Homo sapiens: one gene and its partners. The protein of the gene in region 1 purifies or fractionates together with the protein of each later gene. This does not show direct contact. Each region holds a gene or a part of one and is shown in the gene's direction. Other genes may lie near its edges.

What was found. Proteins that work in one complex are often made in the same cells at the same time.
Region 2: the proteins of DNAJC10 (region 1) and MTMR4 purify together in Homo sapiens (affinity purification with mass spectrometry; 4 studies listed by BioGRID and IntAct, with this or other methods). This does not show direct contact.
Region 3: the proteins of DNAJC10 (region 1) and EDEM1 purify together in Homo sapiens (affinity purification with western blotting; 2 studies listed by BioGRID, with this or other methods). This does not show direct contact.

The regions. Positions count from the first base shown.
Region 1 is NC_000002.12:182,719,257-182,726,899, forward strand, and holds part of DNAJC10 (dnaJ homolog subfamily C member 10 isoform 1 precursor), read left to right. Parts: intron 1-750; coding exon 751-913; intron 914-2,768; coding exon 2,769-2,819; intron 2,820-7,643. UniProt on the Homo sapiens protein: Endoplasmic reticulum disulfide reductase involved both in the correct folding of proteins and degradation of misfolded proteins.
Region 2 is NC_000017.11:58,511,400-58,519,400, reverse strand, and holds the start of MTMR4 (phosphatidylinositol-3,5-bisphosphate 3-phosphatase MTMR4), read left to right. Parts: upstream 1-4,762; 5' UTR 4,763-4,993; coding exon 4,994-5,038; intron 5,039-6,459; coding exon 6,460-6,549; intron 6,550-6,894; coding exon 6,895-7,011; intron 7,012-7,889; coding exon 7,890-7,972; intron 7,973-8,001. UniProt on the Homo sapiens protein: Lipid phosphatase that specifically dephosphorylates the D-3 position of phosphatidylinositol 3-phosphate and phosphatidylinositol 3,5-bisphosphate, generating phosphatidylinositol and phosphatidylinositol 5-phosphate.
Region 3 is NC_000003.12:5,197,303-5,204,945, forward strand, and holds part of EDEM1 (ER degradation-enhancing alpha-mannosidase-like protein 1), read left to right. Parts: intron 1-2,289; coding exon 2,290-2,393; intron 2,394-4,450; coding exon 4,451-4,622; intron 4,623-5,663; coding exon 5,664-5,847; intron 5,848-7,643. UniProt on the Homo sapiens protein: Extracts misfolded glycoproteins, but not glycoproteins undergoing productive folding, from the calnexin cycle.

The DNA.
Region 1 (7,643 bases):
TTTTTTTTTTTTTTTTTGAGATAGGGTCTCACTCTCTTGCCCAGACTGGAGTGCAGTGACGCCAGCGGCTTCCTGCAACTTCTGCATCACAGGCTTAAGCAATTCCCCTGCCTCACCCTCCTGAGTAGCTGGGATTACAGGCGTGCGTCACTACTGCCCAGCTAGTTTTTGTGTTTTTAGTAGAAACGGGGCTTCACCATGTTGGCCAGGCTGGTCTCGATCTCCTGACCTCAAATGATCCACCCTCCTCAGTCTCCCAAAGTACTGGGATCGATTTTGGGGTGTTTTCTGATACTGGCTTTTATGTAATTAGCTGATAGATTGGGGCACATCCTTTTTTAATTAAGTTGATTTTACCTCAAATAGAAAAATAACCTACAAATGTATTGATTTATAATTGTTATAGGAGTAAAAAATATTTATGAAATTAAGAGTTTCAACAGGCTTATTATTTTCAGCTGCATTTTTTAGGAAGAATAACTCATGGTCTGATAACGTCTGTCAACCTTTTGAAGAGTCAATTATTTCATTACTTTTCTTACTTTTTTTTTTTTTTTTTTGAAGATTATAGTTTCTTAAAAAATACTTCATTTCAACCCATGGTAACTCATGTCATGTTGTATTACCCCTCCTTATGTTGGTATATGGTCTCCCAGAAGTTACTAGATTAATTAAACCTACATATATGTTTTGAAGAAACTTGGATTGTGTATCTGAAATAATTGTATTATATCTAATATTTTTTAACAGAATAACCCAAATGCACATGGCGATTTTTTAAAAATAAATAGAGCATATGAAGTACTCAAAGATGAAGATCTACGGAAAAAGTATGACAAATATGGAGAAAAGGGACTTGAGGATAATCAAGGTGGCCAGTATGAAAGCTGGAACTATTATCGTTATGATTTTGGTAAGGTGATACGATATTACTTATGAAATGTGTTTTATCTGAGTAAAAGAAAAGTGAATTCTGTTTCACCACTTAGCTTATATATTTAAGATGCGTCACTTTGATTAGCTCCTTTTAATTTGCTGTGGGAGTGAAATTTAAAAGGAATGTCAGTTGGTATACAGAGATGATCTGTACAGATATGAAGTTGTATTGGTTAAATCTTGTTAAATACTTTTAAAATAAGGATTGCTATTTAATAAAAAATATGCATTCATGGACTGCATAATGACATTTCACTTAACAATGGATTGTATGTAGGACATTGGTCCCATGAAATTATAATACCATATTTTTACTGTACCTTTTCTATATTTAAATACAAAGATACTTAGCATTGTGTTACAGTTGCCTATGGTATTCAGCAGTAACATGCTGTACAGATTTGTAGACTAGGTGTGTAGTAAGCTATACTATCTAGGTTTGTGTAAGTACACTCTGTGATGTTTTTGCAACAACAAAATTCCCTAACAACACATTTCTCAGAATGTGTCCCATTAGTAAGTGATGTATGACTATATGTTTGCATTAGGGGTAGCTAAATATTTCTTTCAGTATTTTTTAGTATTGAATAATATTAATTTCTTTCAATATATTTTAGAGCATCATATTGTCCAAGAAAGGCGAAACTTCAAGTTTAGTAATGATCTCTTCAATAGAAATGCCGTCCTTCTCATATGGAACCCTTACTGATTTTTAAGGTGTTTTGGCCTTCGGTTGACATTAAGGTCAATACCTTGAAACATTATCAATAAAGGTTCCATATGAGAAGGACGAAAGGTGTTTTTTTTCTTAAACATGGAGGAAAAAATAAGGTGGAAGGAGGAAACAAAGTAAAGGAACTAAGGAAGAGAGATTGTAAACACACAGGTATCAAGGGAGGAAGGTGTGTTCAGAGACCCAGTGTTTCTCCTAGTCATTAATTAACCTCAAATGCAGGCTAAGAACTGAATATGCTTCTGTATTAGACTAAATGAAGTATTTTAAATTTATATCTGGAGGATTTGCTTTTAGTAAATATGATTTTTTTTCAAAATAGTATTTTCAAGTATATTCTCTACACCTTGATAGTCTATATCAAGAGTTAGCAGACTGCATTTCATAGGCCAAATCTGGCTTGCCATTTGCTTTTATAAATAAGTTTTATTGGAATGGAATTACTTTAATTTGTTTACATAATATATGTGACTTCTTTCACACTTCAAGAGCAGAGTTGAGAAGTTGTGATAGAAGCCATACATCCCACAAAGCCTAAAAAATGTATATTTACTAAATATTTGTGTCTGCCTCTGCAAATACTCTAAGCTTTTTAGCAGAAGATATTCTAACATGATACCATGTGTTAAAAACCATATAATCTGAAAATCAAATGAGGTCTGTAGTCTAGTTAACAGTGTACCACTCTCAATTTCCTGGTTTTCGATATTGTGCTATATAGCTACATAACATGTCACCATTAGAGGAAGGTGAGTAAAAAGTATACAAGAGTCTATATTTTTGCACCTTCCTGAATCTGTAATTATTTTTAAAACCATAATATAAATTTTATATGGAGGTAAAATTATGTGAATATTACGAACTACCGCATACACATCTATGAGAGTCCATATCAGAATTCTAATATCTTTAGATCACCCTAAATGTACTGATAGTATTATTTACTTTTTTTTCACTTAGGATGTTGCATATTCTCTAAGTTTGAGATATAATATAGTAGTTTGATTTTTTTGATGATTAAAACGAGTAATCTATTTTTATGTTGCAATTTATATGGTGAAGTTTTGATTTTATAATTTTTATATACTTTTAAAATTAGGTATTTATGATGATGATCCTGAAATCATAACATTGGAAAGAAGAGAATTTGGTAAGTTTGTGGGCTTAAGGTTTTATAAAACTAATACAAGTTCGATCTCATCTAAAACTCTAGGGGATATATATGTTTGAAATTTAGAAATCTTTTGGAGTTTCGAACAGTAATAATGTAATATACTGTATCTTAAATATTTCTAGCAGAATGTGGGGAAGTGTACCATAATAAAAACATTAATATTTATGTAGCAAAATGTGTAAGTATATATACTAAATAAAAGAAATTTAAAAATCAGTTCAGATCAGGTTTGGATGCCAAGTGAGCTTGCTGCAAACTTACAGCAAAACTTCTCAGAGCTTTTTGATTTTAGAGTTTTGGATAAAGGTATAGTTATTTTGGAAGTAGATTTAATTTGATTGGCAACTTTGTGTGAAAATGGCCATAAAAATACAGTTCTGCATTTTCCATTGCATTTTAGAAAATTGTATACCAGAATAGATTCTTATACTTTCATCCTTTGTACAGTAATAATAGGTTTATTTTTTCTATTTCAGAGCAATAAATTAAACTTCAAATCAAATTTCAATTTTATATTGCTCTATCACAATTGTATTTAATTTAGAAAACTAAAATACAGCCAGGCGCGGTGGCTCACACCTGTATAATCCCAGCACTTTGGGAGGCCAAGGCAGGCAGATCGCTTGAGATCAGGAGTTAGAAACCAGCCTGGCCAACATGGGGAAAACCCTCTCTACTAAAAATACAAAAATTAGGTGTGCCTGGTGGCACGCACCTGTAATCCCAGCTACTTGGGAGGCTGACGCACAAGAATCGCGTGAATCTGGGAGGCTGATATTGCAGTGAGCCATGATGGCACCACAAAAAAAAAGAAAACTAAAATAGCGTACCAGTCGCAAAAAATACATATAAATCTATATGTTTTTCATATATTATCGTTAAAAATTTATTACAGCTACTTGATTTTATACAGTTTGTTCCTTCTAAGCAAGGGTGGCTTTTTTTTTTTTTTTTTTTTGAGACGGAGTCTTGCTTTGTCACCCAGACCAGTGTGCAGTGGCACGATCTTGGCTCACTGCAACCTCTGCCCCCTGGGTTCAAGCGATTCTCCTGCCTCAGCCTTCTGAATAGCTGGGATTACAGGTGCCCGCTACCACACCCAGTTAATTTTTGTATTTGTATTTTTAGTAGAGACAGGATTTCACCATGTTGGCCAGGCTGATCTCGAACTCCTGACCTCAGGCGATCCACCCACGTTGGCCTCCCAAAGTGCCAGGATTACAGGCATGAGCCACCACATCTGGCCAAGGGTGGCATTTTAATCTTATTTTCTACATCATGCTGGTGAGCTTCACATACAAAATAGCTGTTCAATGTGTTACTTTGTTAAAAGCCTTCTAGGTGAACACTTGAACATGTTCTAAGTGAATAGAAAATACATCTTTCCTGTGTTCTGCAAATAAGACAATTTGATTCATTTGGATTGTTAATAGAATTAATGCTCATGTCACAAGCTGGTAGAATCATAACTCTCGTGTGAGTTATATAAACCTATAGCTGTTCCTGTGTGGTTTTTATTGTCTCTCATCTCCTAATATATCAGTAAGTGTTTTGTGTACCAATGGTTCAGAAAACATCGGAATTACAGATAGAGGAACTGAACAAAACTTGCAAGCTTACTAATCCATGAGTCTACCTAGAATGAGACTTCACTGATAGTTATATTGTATATGGGTTCACACTTTTTCAGATGTGTCACTATGCAGAAAAGCTTAAGAACTGTTAATAGTTCATATAGAACCCCAAATGGTAGTTCAAGATAAATTGCAGCCACAAAACTTCAGAGATAATTCATAAATAATTAACCTTGCTTGATGAGAGGAATGAGCAGGAGCATTGTTGTGATAGAGAAGGACCCTCTAGTGAAGCTTTCCCAGGCATTTTTCTGCTAAGCAGATGTTATCATTTCTGGCTCTCTAGAAAGTCAACAAGCAAATGCCTTCTAAGCTCTTCTATTATATGCAGCATAGGTTAAGTAGGTTTAATCAATTCTGACAGCTACTGTAAACTCTGAAAGAATAAAATAAGAGACCTACATAATACAGTAAGGATTGCGGGGATTAAATTTAATATAAGCCCTAAATAAGACATTACCTTGGAAAATCACTTTATTTGAAAAGATTGACTTTTTTTTAACAATTCAAAACATTAATACATACTTGCTAAAATTATAGATTTGAACATGTGATATCTAGCCAATAGTGCAGTTTATATTTTATCTGTAAAATGACCTGATGCAAATTACAAATTTTACTCACTTAAAAAATTTAACATTGTAAAAATGTGCTTTCACATTCAAGATAAAAAGGCGAGGGTAATCTGCTTTTGGTTAAAGGATTTCCATATGATTCCATGTTAAAATTAGTTAATATTTTAAAATAAAAATTTCAGAAATTACAGTAAGACATTAAAACATGCATGGTATTCTAAATACGTGCAACTAATTCAGGCTAATTAGAAACAGGTACAGGACTCAGTGTTCACCTACATTTCAAGTATAAGATAGACCTGTGGGGAAAAAGTTAATCTGTACCTTACAGGCAAAGTAATTACATTTTACTTTGCTAATAGAAGCTGTTAACTGGAGTTGTATGTATATTAACAGACAGTAGCTGTAGTTGTATAGTTTAGAAGTGGAAAGTTGCATTTTGAAATGTAATAATTCTATTCTGGGTCACTGTTAGGCACAACATCCCATTGAGCTGTGATGATACAGTATTTAAAATATTTTAACTTTATTCTTATTACTCAGCAATCAGTGGGAACTTGGCAAATATGAGAAGTGCTCGATGAAGACAAAGTACAGGTGTACCTCATTTTATTACACTTTGATTTATTGCACTTCATAGATAATGCACTTTTTTTTCCTTAACAAATTGAAGGTTTTTAGCAACCCTACATCAAGCGAGTCTATCAGCTGAACGTGTTTCCAATAGCATGTGCTCATTTCATGTCTCTTTCTCACATTTTGGTATCCAAACTTTTTCATTATTATTCTGTCTGTTACAGTGATCTACAGTCAGTGATCTTTGATGTTACTATTGTAATCATTTTGGAGTGTGCCCATAGGATGGCATACTTAATTTTTGTGTCTATTCTGACTGCTCCCTCTTCCTTCTCCCTTTTCTCTCCCACTTCTTGGGCCTCCCTACTCCCTGAGATACAACATTACTGAAATTAAGCCAATTAATAACTACAGTGACCTCTTAAGTGTTGAAGTGGAAGAGATGCACATCTCTCATTTTAAATCAGAAGCTAGAAATGATTAAGCTTAGTGAGGGAGGCATATCAAAACCCAAGACAGGCTAAAAGGTAGACCTCTTTTGCTAGTTAAATTATAAATGCAAAGGAAAAGTTCTTCATGGAAAGTAAACGTGCTACTCCAGTGAACACACTAATGATAACACAAAACAGCCATACTGCTAACATAGAGAATGTCTTAGTGGTCTGGGTAGATCAAATTATCTACAACATCCCCTTAGCGAAAGCCTAACCAGAGAAAGACCCTAATTCTTTTCAATTTTATGGAGGCTTAGAGAGATGAAGAAGCTGCAGAAAAAAGTTTGAAGCTAGAAAAGGTTGGTTCATGAGGTTTAAAGAAAACAGCCATCTCCATAACATCAAAATACAAGATGAAGCAGCAAGTCCCGACATAGAAGCTGCAGCAAGTTTTCCAGAAGATCTAGCTAAGATCATTGATGAAGGTGGCTATACTAAACAACAAATTCTCAATGTTAATGAGACAGCCTTCCATTGGAAGAAGATGCTATCTGGGACTTTTTTTTCATGCCTGCTAACACCATATCCATTCTGCAGCCCGTAAATCAAGGAGTAATTTCAACTTCAAGTCATATTATCTAAGAAATACATTTCATAAGGCTCTACCTGCCATAGGTAGTGATTCCTCTGATGGATCCAGGCAAAGTAAATTGGAAACCTTCTGGAAAGGAGTCACCATTCTAGTGTCATTAAGAACATCTGTGATTCATGGAAGGAGGTCAAAATATCAGTGTTACAGGAGTTGGGAAGAAGTTCATTCCAACCTTCATGGATGACTTTGAGGTGTTCAAGGCTTCAATGGAGGATGTAACTGTAGATGTGATAGAAATAGCAAGAGAACTGGAATTAGAAGTGGAGCCTGATTATGTGACTGAATTGCTGCAATCTCATTATAATGATCTCATTATAATATAATTATCTCATTATAATAATCTCACCATGGGGCGGTGAGGAGTTGTTCCTTATGGATGAGCAGAGAAAGTGATTTCCTGAGATGGAACCTACTCCTGGTGAAGATCCTGTAAACAATGTTGATATGACAACAAAGGATTTAGAATATTACATAAACTTGGTTGATAAAACAGCAGCAGGGTTTGAGGCCAGTTTTGACTCCAATTTTGAAAGAAGTTCTACTGTGGGTCAGATGCCATCAAACAGCATTTCACGCTTCAGAGAAAATCTTTCAGGAAAGGAGACATCAATCAGTGTGGCAAACTTCATTGTCATCTCATTTTAAGAAATTGCCACAGCCACCCCAACCTTACACAACCACCACCCTGATCAGTCAGCACCCATCAACATCACGACATGCATGACTTGCTGAAAGGCTGAAATGACTGTTAGCATTTTTTACCAATAAAGTTATTTTTTGTTCCTTGGTTGGTTTGTCACCCCACCTGGAGAGTGCAGCAGCAGGATCATAGCTCATCACAGCCTTGAACTCCTGGGCTCAAGCAATCCTGCTGCCTCAGTCTCCCGACTAGCTGAGACTGCGGGCATGTGCCACCATGTCCAGCTATT
Region 2 (8,001 bases), on another chromosome or scaffold:
GCCAGGATGACCTCGATCTCCTGACCTTGAGATCCGCCCGCCTCGGCCCCCCAAGGTGCTGGGATTACAGGCATGAGCCACCGCGCCCGGCCCAAAAGGCCCCATTTTGATGCCTGTGCGTATTCCAGCTGCGGCGGACGCAGTTTTGTATTTGATACCTGCCCTTGGGAAAACACAAGGTATTAACTGCGTGCAACCTCCTGACTTTCTGTTTCCCCTGATCTGGGAAAAGGGATAGGCAGGTTAAGCTCTACACTGTAGAAAGCCTGTGATAGAGCTTTGAACAAATGCTGCAGCCATTGTAATCACCAAACACTATAGTAAGTGCTGGGAATGAATAAAAACACAATCACCGTCCTACAGGAGTTCAGTATTTAATTAAAAAATTTACAGCATCTGCTAGATTGCAGGCTGTTCTAGACCCTGGAGTTCAAGTAGTGCAAAGTTCCTGTCTTCCTGGAACTTACCAACAGTACTGGAGTTTCAACGTTCTATAAACAAAGATGGGTGAGGACATTAGCCCCGGGCTAATTAAAGCGCTCAGGCCCGCTCCAGACCTGAGAATATCAGCTGAATCTGAATCAACTGTTCTCCATTTCTGTCGGTTGGTGGTATCGCGGGGCCACGGCGACCTCCAGCGGCCACCCTCCGTCTTGTGGTCTGTTCTGGGTCCCCGGGAAGGAAAGGGAGGGGCGATAAGCCGGGTCCTTGGGAGCGTCCTGGTCTCCCTTCGCTTTACAGACTAGGAGGCCGCAGCTAGCTGGCAGTCTCAGATCCAGGTTTCCCATCTCTGGGATGAGAGGAGAGTTCTTCACTCAGGACTGCCAGCGCAATGCAGGTCGTGAAGAACTGCAGGGTCGTTTATCGATACAAAGTGAGTGTTGGAGGAACCCATCAAGACACAGGAAGGGGGAAATCCTAGCGCCGCCAGTCGGAGATGACCAAGACTGAACCTCAGGCCCAGCCCTCCCTTCTCTCTTAGCCTGCAGGTTTTTCTCCTATTCTGGCGTTGGGACCGGATGACAGCTGCGAAACCAAAACGGGAATGGATAAACTGAGGTGCCACTGGGGACCTGTTTCAGAAGTACCTCCTGGGCGGGGCCATCACCGGAAGTGGCTTTAGGCATGTAACCTACAATGCCCGCCTCTAATTGCGCTACCAGTAGGCGACGAGCCGCCTCCACTTCCGGTCCCCAGAGCAGTGGCCAGCAGCCCCCTCTTTACTGCTCTCCTATTGGCTGCCGCAAGGACGCGCTGTGATTTCCCATTGGTCGCGTCTCCCCTCCGGCGCCGCGCCTCCTTCCTCCAGGTATAGTCTCGTCTTTAGGCATCCGATTGGCTAAAGGCTGGGAGGGCGTTTGCCCGACTCGACCAATGAGTGGGGTCGAGAGTGAGGGCGGTGGCTGCGTGATGGGGGCAGGGCGGGACTTGGCGTGGCCATTGGCCAGGGCGGGTACAGGCTAGAGATATGATTGGTTCAGGAGAGGGGCACTGTGGTGGGGTCGGGACTGCGCGGCCTCAGCAGCTGCGGGAGACGGAAGTGGCAAGAGCGCGGCCTCAGAGGGTCGGGCGGACGCCGCCTGGGTGAGTCACCGTGCCCCCTGCACTGCAAGCCTGGGAACCGCAACGACCGCGTCTTGCCCGGCTCCGCCCTGGCCCCCACCGGCTTTCCTGAGTCCCGCCTTCTGTCATTTGGGGCTCCGCCTCCCAGTCTTTAGGCTCCGCCCCTAGAACCTGGGCACCTGGGCTCCCCTGCCAACCTGGCCCGCCCCCTGGGACCAGATCCCCTAGGTCTGAAAACCCTGGGCCTCCCAGGCCTGATCCTTGTCCCTCCTTCCCTCCCTTCCTTCCCTGGGGCTGCTGCCAGTGGGCGGTGAGGCAGCACCTCTGGCTTGCCTCTTGCCGGTTCCCCCATGAGGGAGAATGGCCTAGGGAAGAGGATACTGTGAACAGGGAGGTGGGCAGTACCACAGATGGAGGCTTTTATCCCCGCAGCCTCCCGCAGGGCTCTGCTGCACTGCCTGAGGAAAGCAGGCATGAAGGAAAGTGTCAGTGAAACCTAGGCCTGGCTCCCTAAGTGAGCCTAGGAGGCCCTATCCTGAAATCCCTGTTACTTGGGCTCATTGGACAGATGCTGACTCCAAGGCCTGGATTGGCCTGATTCTGTCCCTGTTGTGTGGCCTCCTCTCCATAACCTCCACCCCACTTGGTGTCAAATACACTCAGGAGGACCTGTGCAGCCCTGCTGCCCTCTGATCACAGGTTGTGGTCCCCTCCCTCTTGTCCCACTCTGGACTCTGCCCCCAGTAAACAGGTCAGGTGGGTACTACTCCCAGACTCAGAGACTGGCAAAACATTCCTGTGGATTCATGCTCCTTCAACTACTGCCACTTCACCCCAAGAGTCAGGGCCTAAAATGAGCCCCAGTTGGGCAGCCTGTGTCTCTTCATAGTTGGCAGTTCTGCTCCCTGAGAAAGAAGTGTTCTCCCTCTGCGTCTGGAAATCAGGACTCCTGAATTCTGCTGAATAATCTTGGATGACACTCATTCCTGTTTCAGAACTTCGTGGCTGACTTCATGCCCTGCAGGATCACTTGTTGCTTTCTCCTCATGTAGCTCCCATTGCCTCTCTCTGGCATGGTGACTTGTGGAGAGACTGGAGTCTCTGTGAGGGAGAAGAATAAGAGTTGTAGAGAAGGTCAGGGGTAGATGTGTGTCATTTGTTGATTCTATGGTAATGTTAATGGGGTCCTTTACTTTTATGTTCCTCTGTCTCCTTACAGTGAGAAGCAGGCAGCCAGTACCCTTGCCACGGTAGAATGGTGAGTACCCTGTCTTTCCTCAGGCCATTGTGTTTTCTGTAATCCATGTGTCTTTCTCTGTGAAGCTGCCCCACCTGTCCTAGACCTTGAGCTCCAGGCTACCCTGTTCAGCTCCTAAACATGTTCATCTGCCCTGGAGATAAATTAGGGTTTCTTTAGATTGCAAAACATCAGCCAGTATACAGCACTGGGACTGGAAGCTTCTAGAAATCATTTTCTGCATGTGCTAGGCCCCACACTTTCCTCCTACTCCCTACCCACCACTGGTTCTATTAACCCTTCATAACAGCCCTCTTCTTGCTTTTCTTGGGTCCCCGGTAGAATCTCTGTGTTCTGGTCTGAAAAGCTGGGCCTTCTTTATCTCAAGATCTTTGGACTTCTGGTGGGTCCTTTGAATATTGTGGATGCTATATCAGGAGTGACTCCACCAAAACTGTGGGGCTTCTCTAGTTCCAGGGTGCTGCTGTTAAGCCACTACAGGTGACAGCTGATTGAATATCTATCAGGATAGCATCTTCAGGGTGCCCAGAATATCACCAGAGGTGGTTTACAATGATCCTATTAATTTTCCATTAACTGTAACAGCCCTTCTCTCACCCCAAGTCCAGGGAAGCCCTTAACTCCTAAGAGCTAGGAGGAGGCAGTGAGATGGGAAAGGCCTAGAGAGCTGTAGGCCCTGGCCCAGACCAGGCCCTTAACCTGGTAGTATCTCTTCGGTGTCTTTTAGGTGTCCCTTGTGCTTAGGGGCAGGTTAAAGAATTCAGTAGATGAGAGGATTTCCTCCTTCCCTCCCTTCCTTCCATAGACATGTGGATTTGGTGTGTGCACTATTGGTTCAGTCTCTTCTCAGAAAGCCTGCTGGTTTTGGCCCCCACCAACAGATAGCTCCTCTTTTTCTCTTCTGGGCTACCCTGAAAAGAGCATGGGCTTCACAGTCAGCTTCATCTAATTTCAAATCCTAGCACCACCACTTAGTTAAATTACATACTTTCTCTCTAAGCTTGAGTCTCACGAGTAAGACAGGATAAGGTTTACTTCTTGGGGCTTGAAAAGTTTTACTGAGATAATGTTAGAAACTGCCTGGCTCATTGTAGATGCTTAATAAAATGTCAGGTTTTCTTTTATTACTCCCTTCTCCCCCAAACAAGACAAAAGCCCTGGTGTCTGAAAGTTACAAGGTGCAGGAAGTTTGGGGTTCCAGCCACCTCCCTCTGTGACTCTTGGTGACATTTTGAGCCCCTTATTCCTGGTCCTTATTCCTTGGCCCTCTACCCAACTCTCTCTACTCCGCTGCTCCTGGGTTTCAAGTTTCGTTTTTTTGTATAGCTTCTGTGGTCGATACTTCTAGCTCTTCACTTTCCCAGACTAAGAAATCCTTTCTCCTCCAAGAAGGGCTTTCTTACCCAGAGATCAGAATGTGAAACAAGGGAGAGATGGAGCTGAAGGAGTAGGGTTGGGTAGGGGCGTTGGAATAAAAAGCTCATTTCCCTTTCCAGGAGCGTGGAATGACTAACCTGGCACCATTCTAAGGGGAAAGAAAGGTTTAACGAAGTCACGGGATTGAAGGACCCTGATGGGCAGGGGCATGGTGGGTAGTGGTTTTGGAGGGAAAGGAGGAAGCAAATGGGGTGCGGGTAGGTGAGCTCCACCTTGGGATCCAGAGCAGGCGTCGGGGGAACTTAGGGGAGGGGGCGCGGGGATGGGTTTGTAAGAGGGCATGGGGTGGCTCACCTTAGAAGAAGGGAAATGAGAAGATGTGGGCGGTCCCGTAGCCCAGATTCCTGAAAGCTCCTAAAGGTCCCTGGAGTAGGGTACGCCCTCCTACGAGGCCCAGGGTCCGCGGGGAGGGAGGAGGCTGGGCTTGTGGGCGGGGCCCGCGGAGCCGCCCCGCCTCTACCTCCGCCTTCCCGCCGCGGTCCCGGGCTCTCCCCTCGCCTGGCTCCCCTCCCTTCTGCACTCGTGCGGGAGGGCGGAGCTGGGCCCGCTCCATTGTGGAGAGGAGGGGAGAGGCGCGCGGGAGCCGCGCGGAGGCCCGGCCACCAGCGCCCTAGCCTCTTGGCCGCCGCGGCTGCACCTGGCGAGCCCCGCAGCCGGGATGCGGCGGGCGCCCGGGGCTGGCGGGCAGCGCAGCGGCTCCGGGGACATGTGCGCTGGCCCAGACCGCCCGCGACCATGAGCCTGACCGCCCGCGTCTCCTGCTCCATGCTTAGCTGCTTCGTAAGTGCCCACCCTGCCTTTGGGGGCCTAGGAGGCACCCGCAGCCCCGCCCAGGGTCAGCCCTCGATTTCAGCCCATCCCCCTTCCCGAGGCCCCTGGCCCGGCCCCGAACGTTTGGGGGGCAGGGAAGGTGGGTTAACCCTTTTATTTCTTGGACTTGCTTCAATCTTTGGGTGCCGGAGATGGTCGAAGGCCAGGAATGGAAATTCTGTGGTCCATCCTGGCCCCGCAGCCACTGCCCTTGACTGCAGATCTCTAGGCCCCGCCCTGCAGGGGTACATCCCTTTACCTCCGCCTCTCCCTCTTGGTCCCACCCGCTGAATCCTTGCTTGGGGATGTGGGATGTGGCTAGTAGGCTGAATGGGATGTTAGGAGGTTGGTCGGGGAGCACGGGATGTCTTTGAGCTGGCTTGGGGCTCCAGTCCCTTCCCTCTTCCACCATTCCATCCCTCACCTGGCATGCCAGCCTTTTCTCCTTGACTGTCCCCCAGACAGCCTCTCTTCTCCATCTTCCCTGCCTCTGCAGGGTTCCGTACCTCTGCATCATTCCCGGTCCTCCCCTCCTCCCGCTCTGGCTGATGCTCCTTCCCAGCTTCCCCCATCTGTCCTCTCAGCTGTCCCCCCACCTTCCCCGTGGGTGTCTGCCGGGCCTCCTCTCTCTCTCTCCCCTGGCTGTCCTTGGGTCTCCTGGCTCCTCCCAGGCGCGTGGATCCCCCCGGGTCCCCTCCCTGGTGGTTGGGAGGGGAGTTCCTTTTGCTTGCTGTGGGTATTCCTCAGGAATTCCCCTCTGATTAGCAGGCAGAGCAGGTTACTTGGCAGGTAATGGGGGCTTGTCAGCAATGTGGGTCTAACAAGAAGATAAGCCCAGCTCTCAAACACGTCTTCCTTTTGAAAGCGTCGGTGAAGGCCCTCTAGAGGCGTGGGACTGAATCCCCCCACCCACTCCTCTTTGTCTCCTTCACCCACCAGATTGAAGCTTCAGTGGCTTGTAGGCGCCTGATTTCCCTTCTCTCTGAAACCAGCTGCCATACCTGGCTCCTTTTCCTCAGGACAGCACTTTCCCATCCCCACTCCTGCCTTACCCTTATGCGGGTCTAAGGGAAAGAGTCTTTCTTTTCCTTAGTTTTCTCTCCTCCATTTTTGAAATGTTGGTTCTATAGGAGAGTCCCTCTTTGAAGAGTGCAGATTCCCAATTCCTCCTGGGGCCTCACTCTTTCCTTAGGCTTAATAGGCTGATATGCTCTCCATTTCACCCTTCCCTGTCTCCAACCAAGTCAGATCTCTTTTCCCTTCTCTGGTGACCAGAACCTTTAGAGGTGTGTGTGTGTGGGTATCTGTGGATTTCTTGGTGGGGAGAGGAGCAGAATGAGCCTGATGGGCTAAGTGGAGCTTGGTGACTTAGGACTGTGGCCTTCCTACAGGGTGAGGAGGGGCCCCCCAGCCTGGAGTACATCCAAGCCAAGGATCTGTTCCCCCCCAAGGAACTAGTGAAGGAGGAAGAGAATCTTCAGGTAAGGAGGAGTTGGGGGCCAGGATAGATGGGGCTCCCTGCCCAGTTAAAAAACACCCTCCCTTCTCCCAAAAATCCTCAAGGGCATCTGGTACCAGAGCTCTGGCTTCATGTTCCCTGGTCTCTGGAGGAGGAGGGTTTGTCTGCGCATCCTGGAGCCTTTGGCCGCAGGGAAGGAAAGGCAGCTTTCCTGTACAGCTGTTGCCTGGTGCTGTTACCGTGGAGAGAACTCTCCTCTCTTGCCTTGGCCCACCTTTTCCAGAGGGGATCCCACAGATCAGGGGCTGTAGAAGAGGATAAGGTGGTCACTCACTTCTGGACTGAAGGTTTCTCTGCCCCTTGACAGGTCCCCTTCACAGTGCTGCAGGGTGAGGGAGTAGAGTTCCTGGGCCGGGCAGCCGATGCCCTCATTGCCATCTCTAACTACCGGCTGCATATCAAATTCAAGGACTCTGTCATCAACGTGAGTTTCTGTATTGTTCTCCTACCCCTAAGCTAGAATCCCTATGAAGTTCAAGGTGGGATTGTTCCAAGGCTGTCCTTGATCATGTCATTAAAAAAGTTGGAGGCCGGGCGCAGTGGCTCACGCCTGTAATCCCAGCACTTTGGGAGGCCGAGGCGGGTGGATCACTTGAGGTCAGGAGTTCGAGACCAGCCTGGCCAACATGGTGAAACTGTGTCTCTACTAACAATACAAAAATTAGTCGGGCTTGGTGGTGCGCACCTGTAATCCCACCTACTCGGGGGCTGAGGTACGGGAATCACTTGAACCTGGGAGGTGGAGGTTGCAGTGAGCCGAGATTGTGCCACTGCTGTCCAGCTTGGGTGACAGGGTGAGACTACCTCTCAAAAAAATAAAAAAAAAAAAGTTGGGGATCCCTTCTGTTTCTCTCTGACCTCATGTTTTCCTGCCTCATTTTCCTAGCTCTGTTTCTGGCTCATTCTCCTTTCTCCTCTTCTCTCTTTCCATTATTCTATTACTGGCCCTTCTAAGGAGCACAGTGGCATTGTTGGAAGAACACAGGCTTTGGAGTCAGGCAAACCTGGGCTCTTTTCCTGCGTTGCCACTCACCAGCTGGGTGACCTTGGTCAAGTCACCTAACTGAGGCTTGATTTTTCTCCTCGTAATATGGGCTGAAAGCACCTGCTGTGCAACGTTATTGGGATCATTAATTGGGATCACATATGCAGAGGACTCCGTACAGTTACCAGGTGCTTAACAGACCCTCAGTAAATGTTGGTTTCCTTCCTGCTATTGATACATTAGTGCCTACGCTAGGGTGAGGGTGAGGAGTGGTACCCAGTGGGGAGTCTGAGCTTCAGTTTGCCCTTCCTCTACAGGTCCCCCTCCGGATGATTGACAGTGTGGAGAGCCGTGATATGTTCCAGTTGCACATTTCCTGCAAGGACTCCAAAGTGGTGAGGTGAGAACAACGGAGCCTCACTCAGGTCC
Region 3 (7,643 bases), on another chromosome or scaffold:
GGTCCCACTATTAGAGAGCCACAGTGCCCATCAGCATTTTAAAGACTCTGAGAAGTCCTACAGTCAAACAAACAAACCCATTTAGCTCCTCTGTCCCATTCAGCCATTTTCAAACATTAGTGTGATTTCAGAACATAGTCACTCAGGATTCTATAGCTATCTGACCATAATGATAAACTACAATAAGTAAGAGCTGTTGACTTCCTTCACCTTCCTCACTTGATTTGAGCTCCTGTCAGCACCTGCAGCTTCACCAGATATTGTTGCTGGTAAACATCTGTAAGGAAACAGACTCATCTCTGTGGTTTTCATTGTAGAATATCCGGCCTTTAGTGCTTCAGGCTTATTTTTCAGGTGTTACTTCTGTTGAAGTTTTCCTTTTCTTTTGCTAACATTTAAACAGGCTTTAACAGATGTGCTAGGGAAACACTGTGAAGATAGCAGTCCCCTGACCATTGGATGCAACTTGCAGCATTATTGCATCATCTTCTAAAAAGAAAGAACTGAAAGCTAGAAATGTCTGTACTTACTCTGTAGGTTACAGCAAAATAACGATGAGGTGGAAAAAATGTAGTTAGGCACAGCTTGGTTTTATACATTGTAGGGAGACATGAGACATCAATCAGTATGTGTAAGATGTACATTGGTTCAGTCCAGAAAAGTGAGACAACTTGAAGTGCTGGGGGTGGGGTGAGGGGGCACTTCCAAGTCACAGGCAGATAAAAGACAAATGGTTACATTTTTTTTGTCTTTTTTTTTTGAGACAGAGTCTTGCTGTGTTGCCCAGGCTGGAGTGCAGTGGTGAGATCTCGGCTCACTGCACCCTCCACCTTCCCAGGGGTTCAAGCAGTTCTTGTGCCTCAGCCTCCCGAGTAGCTGGGATTACAGGCATGCGCCACCACGCCTGGCTAATTTTTTGTATTTTTAGTAGAGACAAGGTTTTGCCATGTTGGCCAGGCTGGTTTTGAACTCTTGGCCTGAAGTGATCCGCTCGCTTTGGCCTCCCTAAGTATGGGCTTACAGACCTGAGCCACCGTGTCCAGCCGGTTGACTCTCTGATTAGCCTTTCACGGAATATACAGTTTACCTGTGACAAAGGTAGAGGAATAGTCACTTATGCCTTTGTCTGGCTTAGTGAATCTGCAGTTTTACATAAACAGTAGGGCAGAGGAAGCAATCAGATATGCATTTTTCTTAGGTGAGCAGAGGGATGACTGAGTTCTGTCCTTTGTTTGTACCTGTGAAGATAAACTGTCAATTTACATTGCCTGGGTGAAATTCAGCAGAATTGTTTTGAGGGGAAGATCTTGAGGCCCACAAGGAATTTCCTTGTAGGTAAATTGTAAGGGACGTATATAGCTTTTTTTTTTTTTTTTTTTTTTGAATCTTTGTAGCTATCTTATTTAGGAATAAAATGGGAGGCAGGTTTGCCTGATGCAGTTCCTAGCTTGACTTTTCCCTTTGGCTTAGTGATTTTGGGGTCCCAGAAATTTATTTTTCTATCACAGTATGTCCTTATGATGTCATTATAGTCTCAGGGTTGTCATAAAATTTAGAGTGGAATGAAATAATTTTGATTCAGGTTAATCTATAAAGTTTGATGCCCAACTGTGCTTCACATAGGAGAGAGTGGCTTAGTGTGACGTCGTATCTACATACCCAAAATAGGAATCATAATTCTAGATCACTTTTTAAAAAGGACATAGAGCTGATTATTCATATGTTTTGTTTCTTTTAAATCAGTCACTGGTTTTATCCTGTGCTCCAAAAGATATTACCACTATTTCTCAAAGTGTTTAGGCATCTGGATAACAATCAACAAGTTCATTCAGTTTTCCACATGTTTTGGTCTCCTGGGAGCCAAGCACCCAAGCTGCTGATTTATTTGAGGAGCAGAGAGAAAGACATATTTTTGTTTCTTCAGTTTTCTGATTTATTTGTATACCTGCCAGAAGTTTTAGAAACCACAATGCCTGGCATGTTAAATAAGATCATAGTGAAGTTTGCTGGAGAGTGGAGTTGGGAAGATGAGGAGTGCCAATGATTTTACAAGGAATTATTTTCACAGTTTTGTCCTTTGGAGACAGGACTCTTGAGTTGGAGGAAATGGGCCAGCCATGTGCTGGGAATATATGCTAAGAAATAACTGCTTTTCTGTCTCTTGTGTTTCTACTCCTATGGTAGCAAAACCACATACAGACATTTAGGTGACGTGACTGGGCTGCTGTGATGATACAGCCTCAGTTTCATTTCAAGTTGCTGTAATGACCTGTGTTCCTCTTTTTAAAGATAATGGGAAATTCATCCGAGTTCCAGAAAGCCGTCAAGTTAGTGATCAACACAGTTTCATTTGACAAAGATTCCACCGTCCAAGTCTTTGAGGCCACGATAAGGTAAAATAATGAATATTCATAAAATGAATTGGAGACTTCTTTTTATGTGTTTAAAGAAAAAAATACCTTTGAGGGTCTTTTTGCCACATGATCCAGGCAGGGAGTCCATATGGGCTTTATGGGTGCAGTGTGCATTTTTCATGTTCATATCTGTCAAAACTGGAACAATTATTTCAAAGTAATCACATTCCGGACTGAAGGGAAAGACACGTTTGTATTTTGTTTTGTTTTTATAGATTAAACTCTTTTTTTTTTTTTTTTTGAAATGGAGTCTCTGCCACCTAGGCTGGAGGGCAGTGGTGCAATCTTGGCTCACTGCAATCTCCACCTCCCAGGTTCAAGGCATTCTCATATCTCAGCCTCCAGAGTAGCTGGGATTACAGGCACTCACCACCACACCTAAGTTTTGTATTTTCAGTAGAGATGAGATTTCACCATGTTGGCCAGGCTGGTCTCGAACTCCTGACCTCAAGTGATCCGCCTGCCTTGGCCTCCCAAAGTGCTGGGATAACAGGCATGAGCCACCATGCCTGGGTACATTTATGTTTTAACGGGGGTGTAAAATAGGTGTCTGTCTAGTACAGAATTTCATGGTTTCCCTTTATAGTCTGATTTCATTTTCTTCTTTCACCGTGTCCTAGGACAACCCCTACATATTTCTGAAGGAAATGAGAGTTTCCCATCTTACCACCCACAGAAAATCACTGCTTACCATTTTAGTATATTTCTTTGTTAGGTATATCTCTCACTTCTATTTCTCTCTCTGTCTCTCTCTTTTTCTCTATTTGTTTAGTGGATTGGGATCATGCTGTATACCTAGTATATTGTATATTGCTTTTTTTGATACATTGTGGTTATTTTCCTGTTTACATCTTTTGAAAATTGTATCAACTGCATAACATTCCAGTTCACAGATGTAATACTTATTTAAAATTAAATTGGTGAAAACCTTTGTTCTGACATATATCACAGCCTACTTCAGATCTTTAGAATGGGACTTTATGGGTCTACAAGGACTTAGGTATAAGCTGGTAGCCTGCTGCCTCTTAGTAGGTCATTTTTTCCTCCTCCTCTTCACCTTGCCTCTTTACCAGATGTTACGGTGTTAGGGAAGTTGCTTGGCAGCCAAAACAACAAAAATTACTTAGTATTTGTTGTCTTACCTTTCTCTGTTTTTTTTTTTTTAATTTGAATTAAATTAAATTTTTTTTTTCATTTTAGAGCAGGGTCTTGCTCTGTTGCCCAGGCTGAAGTGCAGTGGTGCTATCACGGCTCACTGCAGCCTTGAACTCCTGGGCTCAAGCGATCCTCCCACCTCAGCCTCCCAAATAGCTGGGACTACAGGCAAATGTCACCATGCCCAGCTTCTGTTTTTTTATGAGTGTTTTCCCCAAGTGAAATAAATCAGGAGTAATTTAATAATACTAATAGGTAATATTTATTCTGAGAACAGTTAGTACACTCTTATTTTTTTTTTTAAGAGACAGGGTCCTGCTCTGTTACACAGGCTAAAGTGTAGTGGCATGATTGTAGCAGTCTTCAATTTCTAGGTTCAAGAGATCGTCCTGCCTCAGCCTCCCAAGTAGCTACTAGGACTACTGGTGTGTGCCACTACATGCGGCTAATTTTTTTTATTTTTAATAGAGACAGGGTCTTGCCTTGTTGCCCAGGCTAGTCTTGAACTCCTGGCCTCAAGAGATGCATCTCTCTTGGCAAAGTGCTGGGACTACAGGCGTGAGCCACCGCACCCAGCCAACTCCCTTTTCTTAATGCCCTAAGATTTAGATTACCAAAATTGTTACTATTTTAAATAGCATTGTTTTTGGTAGTCTCGAATAAATGATTCCCTTTCTCTCTTTTAGTAATATGGTTAACAAAAATCAATCGTGTATTCTTAGAGCTAGAAAGGAATTCAAGAGTCCATTAAGTCAGGTCTCTCTGACGTCAGGCAGTTCTGAGTCTATGTGGATATGAACATACTTCTATCTTTCTGAATTGGATTATGTGCATTTACAAGCAACACGATTGTATTATCTTTTTGTTCTTCCTGTCATTAGGGTCCTGGGAAGCCTCCTTTCTGCTCACAGAATAATAACTGACTCCAAGCAGCCCTTTGGTGACATGACAATTAAGGACTATGATAATGAGTTGTTATACATGGCCCATGACCTGGCGGTGCGGCTCCTCCCTGCTTTTGAAAACACCAAGACAGGGATTCCATATCCTCGGGTGGGTAGACTGGTTTGACCCTTTGTGTTTGACAATTCACTATCTTCCTGAATTAAAATTCTTTGCTTACTAATTTATTTGGGAGAAGGAATGGGATGGAGGTAGATGAGAAAAGCAGTGTCCTTAGAAGAATTTGGCCTTAAATATGATGTAAATATTTTAAAATTCATTCAGCATTTACTGAACATCCACTGTATGAAAGGCAAACAGTGATATATCTGACTTATTCCTTCCCCTTAAAGAGTAGATGTTCTGTGAAGTTCAGTATTCTTAAGTCCATTTACATGTGTGATTTATATTCTCTGCTACAAAGCAGTGTGGGGAGTTTGTCTTCATCTCTGACTTGGGTCTGTTTTCCCAGAGATCCTCACATGGGTATTGCGGGAGCTCAGTGAGTGTTCTTTTCAATGCTTCACGTGGATCTTTCAAATAAAGGCTGCACAGACCAGCAAGTTAGCTGCTGATTTAAATGCCAGGATCTGGAATTAGATTATATATTTGTGACATCTGATTTGCCAAGCCCAGAACTCCTCTGGGAATTGAGTCAGCCTTTTAGGTAACTGACTGAGAACTGCCAGAGCACAGAGCCTTCATGATGAAACTGGCTGTCATATTCTGGTAGTGCCTCCTTTCTTGCCCAGTTTGAGGTTTGTTTAGGTGCTGAGCAGGAGTGAGTTCATAGTGGTTCATTTAAAATTTAGAAGAAATTCTATAGTTTGCCTTTGTCTCTAACCCTAAAGCCTGGTGCCTGTGTTACCATGAAGAAAACCTGCTGGAAAGAGAAGGTTTAGTGAAGTGTTATAGCCATTCCCTGAAGACTTGCTCTTATTAATAAAGCAAGGCTCTGCTGTTCTTATTGTCTTGTTTGTGTCTTTTAAATTTAATTCCCGTATTCACCTCAGATGTATCTTGGAAGGCAGAGGGCAGACTCTCACCGTGGTAAGCTTGGTTTATTAGCTGAGTGTAGTCTCTGAGACCCGGCTTTTCAGCTCTGTGGATTCCTTGAGTTTTGTCACAGTCTTTGTCTGTTCCCATCCCCAGGTGAATCTAAAGACAGGAGTTCCTCCTGACACCAATAATGAGACATGCACAGCGGGAGCCGGTTCCCTCCTGGTGGAATTTGGGATTCTGAGTCGACTCCTGGGGGACTCCACATTTGAGTGGGTGGCCAGACGAGCAGTGAAAGCCCTTTGGAACCTCCGGAGCAATGATACAGGATTACTAGGTGTGGCACCTTTCCTCGCCATTGGGACTGCACACTGCTTGGTCCCCTTTTCCTTTCATCTTCTCTGGGCTCTGCCCCCTTTTTACTCTTCAACTCAATTGACAACTCAGCAAGAATTGTGTCAGCTCTATCTAATTTCTTTATGTGACCCTTTGCAGAGAGGCTGCATGGTCTGATGGAAAAGCATTAAGCTTTTGTGTTTGAGGGCTCCCTTCTGATTCGGATCCCCTGGCATATTCCACTTGAAAATTATTGTTAATGGAAATGCCGTAAAAAGAACTGCCTCTGAGGCAGATTTTATTGCTTCAATGTAAGGTTCTAAATATAGGAATTTAGAGTTACTGATGGAGCAGCTTTTTCCTTTTAAAAAATCTGGGCCTGTGGTAGTAGATTGAAAGTCCAGATTAAACCTGTGTGAGGTGGGGTTTTTTCCCTTTAGAATGTTTGGTGAAGATGTTACTTAAAAATTATTATGGAAAATTTCATAATATAGTAGAGAGAAAGTATGATGAATAATGACCCCTATGTACTCATCATTTGTCTTCACTAATTATCAGTATTTTGCTAACTCAAGGTGTTATTTTATTTATTTATTTATTTTGAGTTAGGGTCTCACTGTGTCACCTAGGCTGGAGTTCAGTGGTGTGATCTTGGCTCACTGCGGCCTCCACTTGCCGGGTTCAGTGATCCTCCCACCTCAGCCTCCCAAGTAGCTGAGACGACCGGCTTGTGCCACCATGTCCAGCTAATTTTGTTTATTTTATGTAGAGACAGGGTCTCACTATGTTGCCTGACTAGTCTCAAACTCCTGAGCGCAAGCAATTCTCCCACCTTGGCCTCACAAAGTACTGGAATTACAGGTGTAAGCCACTGTGCCCAGCCTAGGTGTTATTTTAACTCATGTAACTGTCTTAAGTTCTGAAATTTATGTATACATTTGTTGTATTTAACAACAGCAATAGAAATAAAGAAGTCACTCAAATTGTCAGCCTATCACCAAATAGTTGACCAGTGTCACTCCCGATTGTCAACTTTTTAGGTTTCCATAGACCCTTTCAGCCTGGCCTGTGTAACTTCTATATATTTTTCATTATAATATAAACATATATTTTGATTCTGCCTGACATTTGGCAGATCATTTGTTTCCAGGTTGTTGCCTTGCATTCATAATGACCACTTTTGTTGTTGTTTTTATTATTAAAAAAAATTATCTTTTCCCTTTTCTTTTTTTTTTTGTCTTTTGAGACAGGGTCTCCCTCCATCACCCAGGCTGGACGGCAGTGGCACAGTCTCTGCTCACTGCAACCTCTTCCTCCCAGGCTCAAGTGATCCCTGGGATCAAGTGAACCCCCCATCTCAGCCTCCTGAGTAGCTGGCACTACAGGCACCTGCCATCGCACCCAGCAAATTTTTTGTATTTTTGGTAGAGACAGAGTTTCACCATGTTGCCCAGGCTGGTCTCGAACTCCTGAGCTCAAGCGATCCACCTGCCTCGGCTTCCCAAAGTGCTGGGATTGTAAGTGTGAGCCATCATGCCTGGCCACTTTTTCTTTTTAAAATCATCTTTTTTTGGATAAATTCCCAGGAATGGCAGTACTGGGTTAAAGTCTGTGAAAAACTCTTGGGTTTTGAAATGCATCGTCAATCTGGAAAAGCAAAATGAGAAACCTATTTTTATTTTGCATTAAATGTTTATCCCCATGTTTGTGTCAGTAAATGCTATATATTTAGAAGATGTCTAGGCTAAGTTAGTGATAAGACTGATAAAAATGTTAGGTCCAAGCAACCACCTCCTT